Regions from separate parts of the Homo sapiens genome. Here regions 1 and 2 are each linked to region 3. Evidence: fine-mapped expression QTL. A gene starts in region 3. Each other region holds a variant in brackets. All regions are shown on one strand. Distances are from middle to middle.

Region 1 (5,000 bases), 40 kb before region 3:
CACCATGAAAGGGCACAGCAAGAAGACAGCTCTCTATGAATCAGGAAGTGGGCCCTCAACAGATACTGAATCTACTGGCACCTTGATCTTAGACTTCCCAGCCTCCCAAACTGTGAGGAACAAATTTGTGTTGCTTATAAGCCACCCAGTCTATGATAATTTATTATATCAGCCCAAACAGACTGACACAGACCATCTCATGTGGCCAAGGCAGCCCTTAGGCCAGGGCAAGCAACTTCCAGGCCTTATCTCCATGACCCATCTCTGCTGATACACTAACCGCTATGAACATGTTTCCCCAGGAGCCTGAAAACATAGGTCTTTCAAAAATGTTCTTGCCCCACCCACTGAGTGGAAAAGATGGCAGAGTTCAGCTGTGAGGAACTAGGAGGACCAGGTGAAGGGCCACTCACCACGCCTGGGGAGGGAGCCAGCCACCCCTTCCTCTCCAGCATTTTCAGCTTTGAGCCTACAGCATCAATCTGGGACACTACTCCTTCCAGGACAGTCTCCAGCTGCAGAACTCTCCTTGTGAGCCTGTGTGGGATTTGAGAGAGACGAATGGAGCAGAAATCTGTGTCTGGGGGCTGGATGTCTAAAGAGCCAGGGTTCACAGAAGGGCATGTGTCCTGAATGGAACAAGGAAGGGAAGACCCAGCCTTGTAGGCAGAATTAAAGGGGAGCGGAGGTTCTCCCTGGGGTAGGACAGAGAATTGGAAAGTTGTGGGAAAAGTACAAGACAGGGTATCGTAATAGAAGTGTTGCCAGCCCTGAACCAGCCTTTCTTGGCTGCACGTACATGTAGAATTCTTCTCCTGAAACCCAGCCTCCTGCTCTGGCAGCCTCTGGACCCGATTTGCCTTGTGGGCTGCTCACAATAGATCGGCCTAGTTTCTCAATCTCAGTGTTGAGGGCCACCTGCTCAGGAAGTCAGAGGTTAGAGGGGAGGAGATAACTCTGGGAAGCCATCAGCTCCTGTTCTATCACCTACTCTACTGGGATCTCAGGACCAAGGCTCAGGTCCTAGTTCTTGCTATTCCCCTTCCCTCCCAGACTCTGGAGACAATAGGGTCAGGGTGGTGGTGCTGGACCAACCTCTGGAGGAGTCACCTCTCAAAGAAAACACAAGATCCTAGAAGGCTTGATGGATGAGGTATTTACTAGAGGCCAACTCATTTTAGCAGAGGAGGGACACTACCAGTGTTCTTGGCACTTTCTAGGCTGCTGTCACCCTGCCTTTGACTTTTTTTGGTCCACACTGGATAGGGATGGAGCAGGCACAGTAGGGACAGCCAAGAATCCAAGTCTGAAAATTCCCAAGAGAAGGCAAGTCCTCTGAGGGAATTATCAGTGATTCTTGGGCAGTTGGTCATTTTTCCCTAAGCCTGTGTTTTAGAGCATGATTCTCAACCTTGGCTATGTATTGGAATCACCTAAGGAGTTATAAAAAGTACTGATGTCTAGGCCCCACACCCAGAGATTCTGGTTTAATTGGTCTAGAGTGTGTGTCCTGAGTATGAAGATTTTTAAAGGCCCCCCAGGGTATTCTAATGTGCAGCAGTTTGGGAACTACTATTCTAGAGAGTTCTTTACTATCTATGGGAGAGTTTTCAGGTGGGTTTGTGTTCTAGGTATGTTGGGGGAAGGAGAGGGTGAGCTATTTCCTTACACTGCCTCTCCACCCATCAGCCCAGCTCACCCTCTCTTCCTCCAGGTCCTGTCGCATTTTTTCCTGTTCCTTCTCATCCAGAATACGATTCCCATCTCTGTCAAACTTGGTGAAGGTGGCCGTGAGCTCAGTGATTTCATGCTCTGCGTGTCCCAGTCTGAGAAGAGGATGATGAAATGATTTCTGCCCAGCTGTGGCTGTGACCTCTCAGTTATGGACTTCCTCACTCTTTTGCTTGACTCTGGCAAAAGTTTTGCTTCTGG[T/A]AAAGAAGGTTCTCCAAAGTCTAGCAATCTTACCCCCAGGAAAACACTCAGTTCAGTTCAGTTTCTTCTTCCTCTCCTGACTCCTGCTCACCAGGTTCAGGGCCTCATGACCTCCTACAGGGATTATTGCAAAATCTGTTTGCCTCTAAATAACCTGCTATCCCCCAGCTTCCCCTTTACTCCCTACCCCTGAAATCCATCCTCCATAATACAACTAGAGTAATTAACCTTTCTAATATGCAGATCTAAAAATGTGCCTTCTTGAAATCCCTTCTGGCACCCTATTCTTTTGGCAGAGTGGTAGTGTGGCCTTTCTCAGTGTGGTCCTTGCCTGTTTCTCTGGTCTCATCTCCTGCTATGACCACCACCTGTCCCCGCCCCTTTATTTAATACTTAGCAATGCTCAACTACTTATTCCTCCTGTGTATGTTGCTTGGTTTCAGACCTCTATGCTTTTGTATGTGCTTTCATCTCTTCTTGGAAGAGCCTTCCTCTGCTTGTCCACTTGTGAGCTATTCATCCTCCAATATCCTATTTAGACATTACCTCTTCCAGGAAGCCTTCCCTTAAGCTCAGAGATAGAATTGATCACCCTCTACTCCTAGTCACTTCTGTTGAACTTATTCTGTGATTCAGTTTATTTGCAAGTCTATGAGCTCTTAGAAAACAAAGACTTTGTCCCATTTAATTACGTTGTCTCCTAATCCCAGCACTTTGGGAGGCTGAGGTGGGTGGATCACTTGAGGCCAGGAGTTTGAGACCAGCCTGGCCAACATGGCAAAATCCCATCTCTACCAAAAATACAAAAATTAGCCGGGCGTGGTGGCACATGACTGTAGTCCCAGCTACTCAGGAGGCTGAGGCATGAGAATTGCTTGACCCCGGGGAAGCTGAGGTTGCAGTGAGCCGAGATTGTGCAACTGCACTCCAGCCTGGGCAACAGAGCAGGACTTTGTCTCAAAAAAAAAAAAAAAATTATGTTGTCTATTACTCAGTGCCTGATCTGCAGCTGGTGCTCACAATGTATTTGTTCAATGTGTATTAATATGTTTGACTGGGAATCAGGGAGTGAATGGCTAAAGGAATAGATGAGTGTTTGTGGGGAAGCATAGAACAAAAATCAGAGTTTTGTGGGAGTGGGGTGTGTATTCAATGATTAGGGAATTATTACATTGTTTCCTAAGAGTTGTTCAACAAGATCCAGGATGTTATAAACCACGGTCAGAGATTTTTAAACCAAGGGCACAGTTCTGAAGGTCAGGAGCGGAGACCTACGGGCAAAGATCTGAAGCCTGCAAGTCAAGATCAGAGGCCCCTAAACTAAAACCAAAGGCTTATAAGCAAATGAAGTATGGTTGAGGGTTGAGGACTTAAGAGACTGTTATTAGAGAAGGCTGGGTCTCTGGTTGCTCACTCCCTTAAGGTGTTGGTGAAATCCTCAAACTGGATCTCCTGCTCCCCACCCTGCAGGACCTTCTGCACATCCGAAACCCTCTCCTTCCTCAGACGCAGTCTTAGTAGGGTCTTGTTGTAGCCCTGAAAGGGAAAGGAAATAGGCACAAGTTCTCACAGGCTGCTCACTCATCCCTGGCCCCCAGCCCCACCCATAGTATGCCAGGCTTCCAAGGATAAATTTAAAGGCACACAAGGGCACAGGCACCTCAATCAGTCAGGAACAGACCAGGACACAGAGCCTTAGACTGGGGCACTGATGGAAATGTGTAGCTCAAGGAGATTGAGCAATCACCTGTTTCAGGAGGTCAGAAAGTTGCAGCTCATCCTTCTGTCCAGCCAGCTCCTCCTTGACCTCTGAATATGTGTCATTGATGATGGCCAGGAACATGTTCTGGAAAATGAAGTGGGGACCTGGGTCCTCACCCCCAGACCCACTGAAAGGATTGAGCCCACTGACCCCATTAATGTCCAAGACACGTGTTCCAAAGGGGTCAGTGCTCTCAACCCCAGTTCGGCAGCCCATCAATCCCTGCCTCTCAGGGTCCCCAGAGCCCAGCCTTTCAGCACAGTTCTGTTAGAGATGGATCATGCTTCTTGACCAACCTGGTGTCCTCACTCTCAGTTGCTGTAGTAACCTTTCTGACCACAGAGATACAATAACATATGCCACAGACCTCCTTTGTATAAGGGCCCATCAATCATTGGAACTAGAGGCTTTTCAGGGTGAGAGTACAATTGTGATCTCTTTTTCATCTACCCCCCAATCCATATCTGTATCCCCATCCATTGATCAAATAAAGAAAATTGCTGGCCTTGTTAGTAAAAATAAAATCCAAGAGCTGGGCACACTGGCCTACACCTGTAATCCAGCACTTTGGGAGGCCAAGGCAGGCAGATTGCTTGAGTCCAGGAGTTAGAGACCAGCCTGGGCAACATAGCAAAACACTGTCTCTACAAAAGATACAAAAATTAGCGGGGTGTGGTGGCTCCTGACCATACCAGTGGTCCTATCTACTCAGGAAGCTAAAGTGGGAGGATAGTTTGAGCTCGGGAGGTGGAGGTTGCAGTGAGCTGAGATTGCACCACTGCACTCCAGCCTGGGTGACAGAGTGAGACCCTGTCTAAAATAAATAAATAATAACCCAGATTTTTCATGGTTGGCAGGGAGAGAGAACTACCAAGTAGTGGCAGTAGAAATCAGCATGAGATCCCCAGAGGAAGGGGAGTCTTGGAGGACGGTCGTAGACGCTTCCAGGTGCAGCTACTGCTCCTCATAAGGCACTTTTCTCCCCATTTCCATCCTTGGAGAATGAGGGTTTGATTTTACTGAGGGAGTCTGCAGGTTCCCTTATACTCTGCAAACCTGCAAACTGACCATGCTGGCTGTACTACATTAACCATCTCTCAGAAGATCCAGACATCGGCCCCCCCACTCACTCTCCATCCTTGATTTGAGAAACTTATCAATCCTGAGTGAGGGACATACTAGGACCAAAACTCCACCCTGCAGGCTCTCTATGTCCCCACCCCTCAGAGAGACCCTCACCAGGAGCACGAAGAAGACGAAGAAGACATAGGTGACAAAGTAGGCAGGGCCCAGGATGCGGTTGGCA
Region 2 (7,679 bases), 930 kb before region 3:
GGGTGCCTGCCTGGCTGGTCTTCATCACCTGAGGCCACCAGGCTCAAGCCACTGCTGTTGCATTACACCCATCCCTTTGCAAAATCCCTATGGAGCCTGTCACCACTCCCCTCCCTATATACCCCCACCCCACAAAGATTTTCTTCAGGTTAAAAAAAAAGTTTAAAAAAAAGATTTTAAAATAAAGCATTTATGAAGGCTTAATAAATTGTAAATAATTTTTAAATAAAATGAAAATGCCTTTCCTGGAATGTGGCTGTTTTCCTTGCCCCTGGAATCTTCTGACGTGGCTTCATTTGAGATGCAGGTTGAGTGATGCCCACGTGTGATGATCTCACCTGTGCACCACCTGCCTGAAGAGGCATGCCGCTCCGGGCCAGGTGTGAGGCTGCGGTGAGGTCACGGGGAAGCCTTGGCACACTACTTTGGGAGGCCAGATGGTAAGATTTTGCAGGAGTGAATGCCAGAAATGAGAAGTAAAACCCAAATGAGAAGCCAGTATGCATAAAGACGAGGAAGGAACTAAGACGACAGTGAGAAGGGCTGGCATTTGCTGAACCCATGTGATGGGTGAGGTGCTGTGCTGGGTGCCGTCCAAATTCAGGGTCTTGGGGGCTAAACCCAGACAAGCCCCTGAGACAGAATGTTGGTCACACTAGCTCGCTTCTGCAGAACCTTCAGAAAGGAGTCCAAGTGGCATGACTCTGGCAGTTTGCAACCAAAGGCTAGGGAACGGAACACAAGAATGGGCCAGGCCTGTTGGTCAGTTTTAAGCCGATGCTGGAGGGAGGGAACAGCCAGGCAGGTGGGAAGATGTGTTTGGGCATATAATACCTGTGTGGAAGGAAGGCTGAAATCTGACACCTACTACTCATTTCTCAAAGCAAACAGGAGGATCAGGGGCCTATGCCAAAACCTCTTAAGATTCTTCTCAGGAACCTCAGTAGAGGCTATTCATTTCACTAACGGTAATAATAAATAATGGAAACAACTATTTTGCCAAGGGCTTTATGTTCCAAGTATTCTGTTAAGTACCCATTAGCTCATTTCTTTCTCAACCACCCTGTGGAGGAGGGGTTACTGTCTGCAAGGTTACTGTCTTCTTGCTCACGGTTACACACCTGGGAACTGGCAGAGCCTGGAGGTTGGAGTGCCCTGCTCTTGAGTGAGCAAAATTGGTGAAACAATCCCACCTCTGAAGTTCACTGGCATGTCAGAGGCCTGAGGAGTCCTGCCGGCTTCCCAAACTCACAGCCCTTTTTCAGGTGAACGCAGTGGGAACCACACCAACCAACATATCTGTCGGAATAGAAGAAGGCCAGATTCCCATTGAGATGGGCTTTTTTCAAGGCTAAAAACATTTGAGCACTTTGGTACTGTCACTTAGATTTAAAGATGTGTTTATCTTTAATGGTTTTGGCAGCCCCCTAAAGAGAAAATTTTAATTTTCCCTAACAAGAGAAATTAAATACTAATAAGATGGTCAGGTAGGATTGCACTTTGGAAGGCAACATTTTAGTATTTCAGGCTTTTTTTTTTTTTGCCCCAGAGAGCCAATTTTCGTCCCCATGGAGGCAGTATCGTCCCCATGGAGAATGAGTGGTTGAAAGCGTTTGGAGAGAATGGCAGATTGACAGAAGGTAGAATCATTCGACTTCTCTGTTGGCTGCCTTCCCTTACTAACAACAAGCATCTTTACATTGGGAGGAGAACAAAGACTGATATGTTCAGAAAGCTGTGAAGAGATGGGTGGGAGGGCATCTAATCACATTCACTCATGAACTTCCACCAGCCCAACCACACACTGGCAGAGTGAGTGTCCTCTGAAGAACTCCTGGGGCTCCAGCCAGACAGGGAAGGATCTGGAAACCACATCCTGTGCAGAAACAAAAGTGGTGGGGGAGAGGCAGTTCATGTGGAAAAGTGTAAACAAGGAATGACAACTGCTACTTTCAAATATTTGAAAGGTGGTAGATTAGAAGTGCCAGTAGATTTACTATCTGTGGTTTAAAGGAAGGAAAGGAGGGGCAGGGGAGTGGAACAAAGATCAAATTCTGGTTCAAGGTAGATGAACTTTTACCGTGAGCAAAAGGTAAATGAGCCTCTTTTTTTTTAATTAAGAGGCCCCACCAGCAGAAGGGGATGCCTCACCAGGTATTTAAAGAATCCATCACCACTACCACCCCACCAGTTGAAATGGATGAGTCAGAGACAATATGGAGAGACTATTTCACTGGCGGAGAGGCAGGACTTGATGACTTCTGAGGCCCCAGTCATCCCTCAGGACTGCAGGATTTTCTAACAACCCAAATGAGTCCTAGAAAGTGGCAGATCCTATTAAAATCACAAGAATTAACTTTAAATACTTAAAAACTCCAATTAATAGACCTCTTGTGTTAAGTAACATCAAACCCCACCAAATTCTACAAAATGGCCATTTGGAGCGGCCCTTGGACTCTGGAAATTGTGATGTATGTTTTTGTGGTTCTGTTTCAATAAACCAGGAGGGACTCTGACAGCAGGGAACGGGCTGATGTTCTATAATCAACCTGAGTGATGTCATCTCCTCTCACAGTCCAAGAAGTCCAGTTTCTTAAGTAACATAAGACAGCTGGCCTCCAAATGACAAGCCCGCAAAATCACCAGGGAGTTATATGGTGAGTTCACTGAAGGAAGCTATACTGTAAGAACACATTGTAGTTTTTCCTTTAGCCACTAGTAAAACCCTCTAAAGCATTCATTTTAAACTGTGGGTCACAACCCATTAGTGGTCATAAAATCAACTCCATGTCTTGATCAACATTTTTATTTTATTTTTTTAGGTGAAGTAGAACACAATAGAATGGCTCAAAAATATCAGAATGCACTACGCACATCACGAGTAAATACTGTTTGGTAAAACTTGTTTCAGTTAAATATGTACGTGTCCGTGCATGTCATGATTAAATATCCTTCTTACCACAGTCACCCTAAAGAACCAAAGCTTAGGACTAGGGACACAACCATGCAGAAAGAGCAGGGAGACCAGACACTCTGGGTTGAGATGATGAATTTAATGCCGCAGCCGACACCCACATTCACACTTTGGCTCCTTCAGACAACTTGATCTTTGGGACTAGAATTTGTACAGAGTCAAACACCACATAGAAGCACGTGGCCGCCACACACAACACTCCTTTTTAGTGAGAGGGACAAGATACCTATGTCTCATGATCAAAGTACTCTTTTATTCTTAAATAAAAATCTTAATTTGCTTTGACCTCCAAAGGCTCTAATCCCAGTCTCCAAATTCGTCTCAAGGGATGTTCTCTTCATGTGGGGCC[G/A]GTTTAAACAGAGGCTGCCTCACCAGAGCAGCCTTTCAGTCCTGCAAGTGTCTCTAATCCATGGTATGTACATGTAGGTTTGTGCAGGCAGGGAACACACATGACAGAGAACTACTTTGGTGGTACTGGACGGGTGGTGTTTCTTCACTGGATTTTGGTGACTGCTTCATGGATGGAGGTGGCCACGTAATCTAGATTTTTGGTGGTTAAGCCACTCACGTTGATTCGACCACTTGGCAGCAGGTAGATGTGCTTTTCATTGACCAGATACTCAACCTGCTTGGCTGTTGAAAACCAAAAGAAGACATAATCAGAGCAGAGGGGATCCTTAAAGCAGTGGAGGCTCAGCAATTATATGACAATTACAGCTTTACTTCTTTCCCCTTAACAGAGAGAAGCAAAACAAAAGGCGCTATTTTGTCCAACTGACAAACAGAAAAATATGCTCACTAGATTCTGGAAAGTACTCTTACTAGTTCACCTTTGAATCCCCAGAAAATTCAATATGGCTACTACTGATGGGAATTTTAATCTGAGATTGCCTTCCAACCAAGCCTTATACATTATATCCACCAGGACACCCCTATCACCTAAAAACAACCATCAGACGGACAGCGATATGAAATGCTGGCTATGAAGTGCTTCCTTTAGTTCTTCCCTAACCTGGACTTGCATTGAGTACCCGCGGCAGCCTCCCTTTGACATTTCATTTTTACAATACATTGGGTAAGGCCCCATGCATGAGGTACCTGATCAATCCTGTGTGAATTAACCAATGAGCTGAGAAATGACACAGACCTCTCTGACCTGGCACCATCAGACTTCTGTTCATTTCTCAGCTTTCTCTCAGATGCAGTAGTTTTTCCATGTTTTCAGAAATGCATCACATGTGGGTAAGAAGAGACTACCTGTACTTCCTTTATACAGCAGTCTCTAAAGCAGTTTTGCTATTTGGCAAATCCATTGATAGAATTTTAGTGAATTTGGCTGGGCACAGTGGTTCACGCCTGTGATCCCAGCACTTCAGGAGGCTGAGGCTGGTGGATTACCTGAGGTCAGAAGTTTGAGACCAGCCTGGCCAACATGCTGAGACCCAGTCTCTACTAAAAATACAAAAATTAGCCAGGCGTGGTGGCATGTGCCTATGGTCCCAGCTACTCAGGAGGCTGAGGCAGGAGAATTGCTTGAAACCCAAGAGGAGGAAGTTGCAGTGAGCCGAGATCACACCACTGCACTCCAGCCTGGGTGACAGAGTGAGACTCTGTCTCAAAAAAAAAAAGAATTTTAGTGAATTATTGCTTAAGTAATTAGTACCTTTAAGATACCACCAACCTGAGGAAATGGAATAATAATAGAATCATCATAATCAGAGGAGTAAACACTATGTGCCAGGCAGTGTTCTAAGCACTGCATCTTAGTTCATCCTGATAATAACTTTATCATGCCCATTTTACAGATAGGCCATAAAGACATTAAATGGCCTTCCGAGATTGCACAGCTGGTCAATGGTGGATGTGGGATTTTCAGGCAGGATTTCAAGTCTGGGCTGTACACTGCCCCCGTGATGCTACAGTGCCTCTCTAAGGAAGTGAAAAATCTGGACCCTGGACTCAGTGCTCCTTGAAGGAAACCAAAATAGTTCACCCCAAAATATACTTTGACATATTTTGAGATGGCTGTTGAGAGGGCCTACATACAGAAGTAGCCCTGCAAAGCTGTCTTTTGTGGGAGAGATCTGTATCTGTAGAGAAAATCTGCATGGCTGCAGCTAGGCTTTCTCTGAGGCCCTCCCTTGTCCAGATCTAGGGGAGATTAACTGAGAGTGTGATGCCTTTAAAGGTCTAAAAGAAATAGACCTTTACCGCTATTTTCTCCGAGGGCTGCTACCTGTCTTATCTACATAATATAACAAGACCACCTTTGCTAACCAGGCCTTCTCTTCTCTGCCTGCCATAATCTGTTCTGGCAAGCTCCAAGCTCCCATTCTTTCTATAACCCCAAGATGGTATAAAAGCATCAATCATCTGGCCATTTATTTGAGTTCTATTTTGTAAGACACCTGTGCAAGTTAATAAATTTGCATGCTGGCCAGGCACAGTGGCTCATGCCTGTAATCCAAGTACTTTGGGAGGCTGAGGAGGGAGGATTGCTTGAGCCCAGGAGTTGACGACCAGCCTGGGCATCATAAGGAGACCCTGTCTCTACAAAAAAATCTTAAAAATTAGCCGGGCATGGTGGCACACACCTGTGGTCCCAGGTACTACGAAGGCTGAGGTGGGTGGATTGCTTGGGCCTGGGAGGTTGAGGCTACAGTAAGCCATGATTGTGACGCCGCACTCCAGCCTGGGCAACAGAGTGAGACTCTGACTCAAAAATAAATAAATAAATTTGTATGCCTTTTCTCCTATTAATCTGCCTCTTGTCAGCTGATTTCCAGCAAACTTTCAGAGGGCAAAGGGTAAGTTTTCCCTTGACCCCTCCAAACCAGTGAACAAAGAAAGCAAGCTTAAGAAGAGGTTTACCTGTGTGAATTGGTCACCCAAGGGGATAGAGCCTCAAGCCAACACAGCCCTGGGTGTGCCACTCTTTCTAAAAGCCTGTGCCCTGAGGCAGTGATTAAATGACTCCTACCCTGGCTTTTGGTTTTGTTTTAGTAAAAATGAGGCCTTTCTACTTTTTCAGAGAAGGGAAGTGTCACAGTTTGAAAAGCTAGTAAAAGTTATGGACTCTTTCCCTAGAGCAGGGCCAAAATACACATATACAATTTTTTAAACATCATTTCAGGGGCTTCACAGTTCTCCTAAACGTACATCCAGGGATTCCAGGTTAAAAGCCCCATTCTGACAGAAAAAAGATAACAAAGGAAGTATTGTAATGTGAGAATTGTAGAAACTAGGTGGCGGATATATAGGGGTTCACTGTACAATTCCTCCAACTTTTCTGTATGTTTAAAACTTTTCTGGCCAGGTGCAGTGGCTCATGCCTGTAATCCCAGCACCTTGGGAGACCGAGGCGGGCAGATCACTTGAGCTCAGGAGTTTGAGACCAGCCTGAGCAATATGGTGAGACCCCGTTTCTACAAAAAATTAGCCGGGCATGGTGGTTCACGCCTGTGGTCCCAGCCACTTGGACACTGAGGTGGAATGATCACCTGAGCCCAGGGGGCAGAAGTTGCAGTGGCCCGAGATTGCACCGCTGTACTCCACCCTGGGTGACAGAGCGAGACCGTGTCTGAAACAAACAAACAAACAAAAAAGGCCAGGCACAGTGGCTCACGCCTGTAATCCCAGCACTGTGGGAGGCCAAGGCAGGTAGATCACTTAAGGTCAGGAGTTTGAGACCAGCCTGGTCAACATGGTGAAACCCTGTCTCTACTAAAAATACAAAAATTAGCTGGGTGTGGTGGCTCATGCCTGTAGTCCCAGCTACTTGAGAGGCTGAGGCAGGAGAATCGCTTGAATCCAGGAGGTGGAGGTTGCAGTGAGCCAAGATTGTGCCACTGCACTCCAGCCTGAGCAACAGAGCAAGACTCTGTCTCAAAAAGAAAAAAAAAGTTGGGAGGAAAACAAAACCCCTGTTTTTAATAAGGGCAAATGATGCCAAGCGCTAAAAATATAACTTTTGTGTTATAAGCACAGTTCTATTCTCATCATTTTTCCAATTCGTGATATTAATAAAACTAATTTCCTCCTGTGGATAATGGGAAGATATGGATATTTTACAGGGAGACATTCCCATATTGTGAGCTTTTAGACTATTACTACTAAAGACTATTAATATTTCTGTTACATGTAATATTTTTATAATTGTGAGTGAACTAATTCTCTGTTCCTCAGTCAAGAGGACATCTACAGCTAACTGAGCTATTTCTTTACTTTCTTAGGTAGCTTCATTTTACCCCAAAGTATTTTGAGGGGTCCACAATACAAGCTCTATTAACTGCCATTTATATTTATTTCCTTTGGATTTTTCTGAGCCCACTTCACACTGGCACTGTGATGGCCCCAGTTAAATACCTCCCCACGGCCTCTGCCGTTCTGCCTACAAACCAAGCCAGCCACACATCCCTCCCTAGAGTCACTGGGACACACAGGTGAGTCGCCACATCTGCACTGTGGGAATTACTAAAGAAATGACGCCTGTAATCTCAGCTACTCGGGAGGCTGAGGCAGGAGAATAACCTGAAGCCGGGAGGCGGAGGTTGCAGTGAGTCGAGATCACACCACTGCACTCCAGCCTGGGCAACAGAGCAAGACTCCATCTCAAAAAAAAAAAGAAGAAATGACTCTTCTGTCATCAGATGGGACTGCAGATGGCAGATGTGCCCTACTGACAATTGACCAAGACCATGCATGA
Region 3 (7,454 bases):
AGTCTAATAGCATCTGTTTGGTCCAATTTTATTATTATTTACGGTTCTTTGACTCTATCTTCCCACAGTCGCCCTCCTATCTTTTCACTTGCTTCTCTCAACTTAGAGATCAAAATTTCTCAGTTTGTGTCTATAGCTAGAGCCTCAATAAGCTTCCTCCAATGGCATGTGACATGGTGGTCTCTCACATGGGACCATCACCATACCATGTGTTTCCCTCCCTCTCTTAACAGGGATCTGAGATCTAAGGTCGCCTGGATCTTTTACTTCCTCTCTTTTTTCTTCCATCTTTTTCTCTGCCTCTAAAGAAACATGCATCGGATATAGTATAATAACTACGTGAAGCCCACCAAACTATCTTTCCAAACAGAAGGGAGTGGTTTTCCACTCTTTTTTTTTTTTGGAGACAGAGAGACAGAGTCTTGCTCTGTCCCCCAGGCTGGAGTGTAGTGGCACGATCTTGGCTCACTGCAACCTCTGCTCCTGGGTTTAAGCGATTCTCCTGCCTCAGCCTCCTGAGTAGCTGGGATTACAGGCACCTGCCACCCAGCTAATTTTTGTATTTTTAGTAGAGACAGGGTTTCGCCATGTTGGCCAAGCTGGTCTCAAAACTCCTGACCTCAGGTGATGTGCCCACTTCGGCCTCCCAAAGTGCTGGGATTACAGGCGTGAGCCACCGTGCCAGCCCACTCTCTACAGAAGGGTAAAATATTTTCACCTTTCACCTTTTCAGCCAATAGAAAACAATGGCTGCCAAAAACTGGTTTCCCCTTGTAATTCTTGACCAAACTGCCTTCCTCTACTGACAAATTCCTTTTAAACAAAATATCTTAAGCTGCAAAGGTAAATAGATGGGATTGGAATATTGTTATCTAAAGTTCCCGGATATAGCCTGCTTACACAGATAGATGCTCGCTCCACAGATGTTGCCCACAGGAATGTTTATACATATAGTGCACACATAGATGTTTCTCACAGACAGATGTACACAAACACAGATGCTACTCACGTAGACAGATGTCCACCAGGAACACAATATATACCAACAGCTCCCTCAGGGTGGTCTTGATATAAAGTTCCCGGTTCTCAGCTGTGTTCTCAGTCAGGGTTGTTCCCCAAAGTCCTAAGGGGCATGGGAGAGATGCCTGGGATGCTCAGTGGCAGTGTTCCTCCCAGTCATCCCCACCCATCTGTCTCTGGACTTTAGCCCCTTTCCACCCCTGCCCTTCCTTGCCCATCACCTTCATCCTTGGCTGAATCTGGCTACTGTACCCACACCCATGCTTGCTCTTCCCATCAGCTCCCTGAGGTCGACAGGGGTGAAGGCCCTGGCTTGTAGAGAATGAAGGCATGGAAAGGAGGCACCTGTTCCAGGTGGGGTAGTCTAGGGCATCATCACATCCATGTCCTCCCTCAAACCAGCTCCCACATACCTCTCTGGATCCCCAGGTGATGACCATGCCAGGCTCCCACAACCGGTAGACCGCTCAGCTGGCCTCTGTGTTCTGGGTCATGCAGCACTACCATGGGCAATTCATACACCCCAAAGTGACACCGAAAGGTCACCTCTTCTTCAGATCACATTCCACCCCCACCCCCTGCCCAAAAGCTTTTGGTGACTCCTCCTGATTCTAATATCCCAGGAGAACTGTCCCCCTATCTGGTACCTCTGATGCCTTGACAGATATGGAGGCAGCAGCTGGACACCTGGGTCCTGTATGCCGTCTCCTGGGGTTCATCTTCAGGCTTCTTGGGTTGGGGCTGGAGAGGCCCCGTGCTGGAGATGGTGCAGACTCTCAGCGTCCCGTGTGGGGAAGGGGGACCACTGTAGGCGGGGTTGTCCCAGGCTCCACTCCCCAGCTTTTGCAGCTCCTGCCCCTCAGGACTTCCCACAGCATTCATGGGGAATGAGGTGGGGGGGCCCGGTACCCCAGGTGCCCACTCTCAGCTAGAGGAAGAGGGAGCAGAGGCACAGCCCAGCCTAGCCAGCAGAGAGCAAATGGAAAGGCGTCTGAGAGCAGCTGTTTCCACACAGCCTGGGCTCCTGCCTTTTGTAGGGGGATGTCTGTGCCTGCTGGGGAGGGAGCGGATGAGAGGACAGGGTGGGGAAGGACCATCAATCCTGTCAGGAGCTCTCTCTCCCTCTTGCTGCAAGCCCCAGGGGACCAGCCGAAAGGGGAGGTGAGGGAACTGGAAGGTGGGGGTTTGAAGAGGGGAGAGGGGAGAATAGGAGGAGGATGTGGAGCTGGGAGTGGAAGGAGAAACGGGAGGAAAAGGCGATGCTGGGGATGAAGGGGGCTGCTCGCAGATGTGCCTGGTGGAGAGATGGCCCAGAGGTCGGACAGAAGAGACGATCAAAGAGCAATGGGAGGAGCTGAGACAGGAGGGGAGCCGGGGGCCTGTGCTGCGGGTCTGAGCTCATTTCCACTAAAAGCTCCTAAAAGGGCCGACATGGATTGGGGTGGGGACCAAGGCTGGGAGGAAAGCTGAAGAGCGCTGTCCCCCTCCCAGGCTCTGCCCACCTCCCAGGTTCAGTCAATGGGTCTGAGGCTCCTGTCCTGTCTCACCTTCAGCTGTCCCCTGGTGGAGCAGAGATGGGCAGCTCCCTTCCCTCACTTCACCCTCTCAGCCGTGGGGAAAGGACAGTGGCAGGAGGAACCCCAGTCTCACATACTTCAGGGCACTGAGGGGGCAGGGGAGAGGACCACAGAGTCCTAGGTTGTCTATATTCCTTGTTCTGAAGCTTGCCTTTCCATGGCTTACAGGTGAGATACACCAAGAGAGGGGGTTCCTTAAGGGTGTGGGGCTCAGTATGGGAAAAAGGCTAAGACCTGGTTGGGAGGCTGGATCGGAGAACAAAGGACAAGGACAGTATGATGTGGGACTAAAGGGGAGTGGATATCTGGACCCAGCTGAGCTGGGAACCTTTTCCCATGGCTCTGCTTAGTCCTGGGCCTAGAATCGTAAACTTGAGCACAAAGTGGAACTATCCATGATATCAGGATTAATCTGCTTTCTTTATAACTGCAGGTCTCTGAATTAAAACTGTGTCATGGGCCCCCAAGCACATCCCTGCCTATGCCCTGCTCCAGCTTCTGATCACCTGCTCCAGCTCCCCTATAGGCATGCATGATGCCCCAGAATGGGGCTGATCCCACAGGTTGTGGTGGTCACCCTGCAGTTTCTCCTCCTTGAGGCTAGAGCAGAGACTTTCCTCTCCTAACTCCTGGCTCCCCACCCAGGGCTACTCACTGGCCTGAAGCCCACCTTCACATTCAGCAAAACATCAGCCTTGTCAAAATAATCAGTCTTGAGTGTCCCTATAAAGAGATCTTGGCTGGGTGTGGTTGCCCACACCTGTAATTCCAGCACTTTGGGAGGCCAGGGCAGGAGGATCACTTGAGCTCAGGAGTTCAAGACCAGCCCGGGCAACATGGTGAAACACCGCCTCTACAAAACAACAACAAAACAACAAAAATTAGCCAGGCATGGGGTGCGTGCATGTAGTCCCAGCTGCTACTCAGGTGGCTGGGGTGGGAGAACCACTTGAGCTGGGGAGGCTGAGGCGTTGAGGCTGCAGTCAGCTGAAATCACACCACTGCACTCCAGCCTGAGCAACAGAGCAAGACCCTGTCTCAAGAAAAAAGAAAGAAAGAAAGATAACAAGTGTTGGCAAGGCTGTGGAGAAAAGGGGCCCCTTGTATGCTTGGCTGTATTGTAAATTAGTACGGACATCTTGGAAAACAGTATGGAGGTTCCTCAAAAAACTAAAAATAGAATTACCATATGTTCCAAGAATCTCAAAGGAATTGAAATCAGTGTGTTGAATAGATGTCTCCTCTCCCATGTTCATTGCAGGATTATTAATAATAGCCAAGATATGGAAACAATCTAAGTATCCATCAACTGACGAAAGGATTTAAAAGATGTGGTATATATGCACAATATAATATATTCAGCCTTGAAAAAAAAAACACAGAAAATTCTGTCATTTACGACAACATAGATAAACCTAGAGAACATTATGTTAAGTGAAATAAGCCAGGCATAATGAGACAGATGCCCTATGCTCTCACTTATATGTGGAAACTAAAAAAATTGAACTCGTAGAAGTAGAGAGTAGAATGGTGGTTACCAGAGGCTGGGGGTGAGGGGTGTGTGAGAGGGGAAGAGAGTGGTCGATGGATAAAAGCTTTCAATCAGGCAAGAGAAATATGTTCTGTTGTTCTGTTGCACAGTGTGGTGACTACAGTTGATAATGAGGTACTGTGTACTTCAAAATAGCTAACAGAGAGGATTTAAAAAGTTCTTACTACAAAGAAATGATAAATATTTGAAGTAATGAATATGCTAATTCACCTGATTTGATCACTCCACAATGTATACATGTATCAAAATGTCACATTGTACCTCATAAGTATATAGAATTATTATTTATCAATTAAAAATAAAATAAAACTTTAAAAAATGGAGCAAATGGGCCAGGCACAGTGGCTAACATCAGCACTTTGGGAGGCCGAGCTTGAGACTAGGAGTTCAAGACCAGCCTGGGCAACAAAGTGAGACCCTGTCTCTACAAAAAAATCAAAAAATTAGCTGGGCATGGTAATGCATGTCTGTGATCCCAAATACACAGGAGGCTGAGGCAGGAGGATTGCTTGAGCCCGGGAGGTCAGGGCTGCAGTGAGCCGTGTTCATGCCATTGCACTCCAGCCTTGGTGACAGAGAAAGAGCTTGTTTCAAAAAAAAAAAAAAAAAAAAGCAGCAGCAGCAAATGGAGGCATGAATAATGTGAGGTAGCCTATTTTAATGGTATAGACACTAAACATTATGAAGTTTAGGGGAAAAGGAAGCTTCCTCTGGAGGAAATGAAACAGAAGCTAGATCTTGATGGATGGGCGAGGTTTGGGAAGGAAGAGCCCCATCAGGTTTGGATGGGAAGGTTTGGAAAAGAAGAGGTTCCTTCTAAGCATAGGAATGATAGGTGGGGTCTTGGGGCTCTGAAGATGTCTGTGATGCCCCTAGGGTTGTAGAAGACTGGCCCTTAGTGCAGTTGGGAGAAAACAGAGGAGGGGGAAGGCCTGAGGTTGCATAACGAGGGTGAGGACCTCTGGTGGTCCCTATTGCCGCCGAGAACTGTGGTGTGCGTGAATCCCTTCAGAGACCATGGAAACTACCAGCTATTCAGAGTGGTTGAAGAACAAAAGGAGGTGGCTTCTGACCAAGTCAGTGGGAAGGAAATGACAAAATAAGAAGAAAAGGAAGGGTTCTTTTTCATTTGGGGCACTCATCCATGCTAATTTTTCATCCATAAAGAAATGAGTAGTCAATCTTTTCATGCTTCCTTTACCAAAAGGTGATTGAATTTATTTTATTAATTCATAGCCTATGTTTAAGGGAAATATATTATTTTGAGATTTTTATTTGTAGTTTAAATGTTTCTTGGGGGGTTGGAGATTTAAGGTAGTCCCAGACTTCTTTTAGATTTTTCCTCCTTATTATAGTTTGTATAAATATTGATCCAACCTAGATATAAGCTATGGGTAGGAGGAATCTTTTTTTTTTTTAACTATAGAACACAGCATTCCAGAAAAACCTCATTTCCATTGGTGAATGGCTATTGGCATACACAAACCTGGCATGTGGTTGAGGAGAAGGGATGCAGCTGACGTGAGAAAATCTTGAGAAGAGAGCCATAATCCCGCTTCCAATTCACTTGAGGTTTTGATGTATGAGGAAAGATGAAAAGAACTGTATGTGGGTAGGCCTGGCTGAAGAGCTAAGGAGTGCAGGTGCATGTGTGTGGGATGGGGTCCTGACAGCCATGTGCAGATGCATGTGTGTGGGATGGGGTCCTGACAGCCATGTGCAGATAGTTGAAGGCATAAGCCCCAAAGAAGGAGAGGGATTGTGAAGGTGCTCTTTAGGGGATTATCTAAGGGTAATGAATGAACCAAAGGGGAAAAAAATGTTTCATCAGAACTTTCATCATGGGTAAGATGTAAGAGGCTATAAAACAACCTCCCATGAGAGGTGGTGAAATTCCCATCCCTTGAGTCATTTGGAGGAGACCTAGAAAGTTTTGGAAGTATACAACACTGCCCTGGTGGGGGAACAGATTTGGCAACCAAGACTATCCTCTATCCTGGTGTTTTACAGCTCAATTTCCAAGATGAGTCCATTGATAAGCAATAAATTTGGAAACTCTCCAGAAAAAAAAAAGAAAAAGGAGGAAGAACTGTACCAGAATCAACCACCTTATGTTAGATAAGCTGATGACAAAGGAAAAGGGAGCCACTACCTCTCACCTACAAGCCTTTTAAATAATTGCAAAAAGACCCCTGCCTTGCATAACTGGACCTTAGGATAGGGTTGATGAGCAGGAAGCTAACAGTATGGTCCAGAGAAGCAGGAAAAGCAACAGGAGATGGTATATGGTTCCCATTGGGTAATTTTGGATTCTGGAGGAGGCTTGTGATCAGCAGGGGTTTGACTGTGCTAAAGGAGGGTCATCATGTGACAAGTCTCACATCTCTGATTGTTCAAGGCCACCAGTGGACTGCTTTATTCACCTTTGGTCACCTACCTGGGCAAAATCCGATTGCTTTCTCCTGCTTAGGGTTAAGCATTCCCCATGTGTGTGGATCAACCCGTATTGGCCCCAGGAGCACAGCTTATGCAACACGGCTTGAGAAATGTTCTCAAAAAGTTCTCTGCATCCTTATGATGTTTAAACTTGCTCAAGAAATTGCAACTGTGGTAATCAAGTGGCATCTCCTGATTATCTTGTGTCCAGTACCTTTCTCCATGTCCCCAAGCTCCTACTGGCACTTGACTTTTCCTCTTGTCGATGCCATCGACAAAGCAGTGTCAGCCGGGCGTGGTGGCTAATGCCTGTAATCCCAACACTTTGGGAGACTGAGGCGGGCAGATCACCTGAAGTCAGGAGTTCGAGACCAGCCTGGCCAACATGGTGAAACACTGTCTCTACTAAAAATACAAAAATTAGCCGGGCATGGTGGCATGTGCCTATAATTCCAGCTACTCGGGAGGCTGAGGCAGGAGAATCACTTGTACCTGGGAAGTGGAGGTTGCAGTGAGCCAAGATCACGCCACTGCACTCCAGCCTGGGCAACAGAGCAAGACTCTGTCTCAAACAAACAAAAAAATGTGAATAAAGTCCCTGGGTTTAGCAGGGCTCAGCAACTTACTAGTATATGGTTCTGAACAAGTCGCTTTTGAGACTCAGTTTACCTATCTGCAAATCTCCAAAGTGTTGATAGCAATGCCTGCCCTGCTGACTTTAAGGACTGTTTTAGGATTTAGATAATAGAATATAGAAGTCTTTATAAACTGTGTACTTTGAAGCACAAAACAAATTTAGTTCTCTTGCTGTTGCATCCATGCTTGTACATTCCACTCATATACAGCAATTCGTGGGTAATGTAGATACC

The links.
Region 1: its variant is fine-mapped to the expression of PKD2L1 in whole blood (TOPMed, PIP above 0.99). The same link has a PIP of 0.9 or more in blood mononuclear cells and monocytes.
Region 2: its variant is fine-mapped to the expression of PKD2L1 in macrophages (Nedelec 2016, PIP 0.95).

Annotation. Positions count from the first base shown.
Region 1 is chr10:100,289,602-100,294,601 of GRCh38, forward strand. It overlaps PKD2L1 (polycystin 2 like 1, transient receptor potential cation channel), which reads right to left. Exons shown (of 16, transcript NM_016112.3): 9 at 4,934-5,000; 10 at 3,680-3,778; 11 at 3,347-3,468; 12 at 1,700-1,826; 13 at 800-918; 14 at 414-537. Among named protein-coding and RNA genes, the nearest start is that of BLOC1S2, 5.4 kb to the left of the region's middle. The variant T/A (reference allele first, on the strand shown) is at 1,933.
Region 2 is chr10:99,394,080-99,401,758 of GRCh38, forward strand. It overlaps GOT1 (glutamic-oxaloacetic transaminase 1), which reads right to left. Exons shown (of 9, transcript NM_002079.3): 9 at 2,791-3,607. The coding sequence ends at 3,468. It overlaps CNNM1 (cyclin and CBS domain divalent metal cation transport mediator 1), which reads left to right. Exons shown (of 11, transcript NM_020348.3): 11 at 1-251. Among named protein-coding and RNA genes, the nearest start is that of GOT1, 33 kb to the right of the region's middle. The variant G/A (reference allele first, on the strand shown) is at 3,324.
Region 3 is chr10:100,328,202-100,335,655 of GRCh38, forward strand. It overlaps PKD2L1 (polycystin 2 like 1, transient receptor potential cation channel), which reads right to left and starts at 2,027. Exons shown (of 16, transcript NM_016112.3): 1 at 1,668-2,027; 2 at 1,010-1,123. The coding sequence starts at 1,902.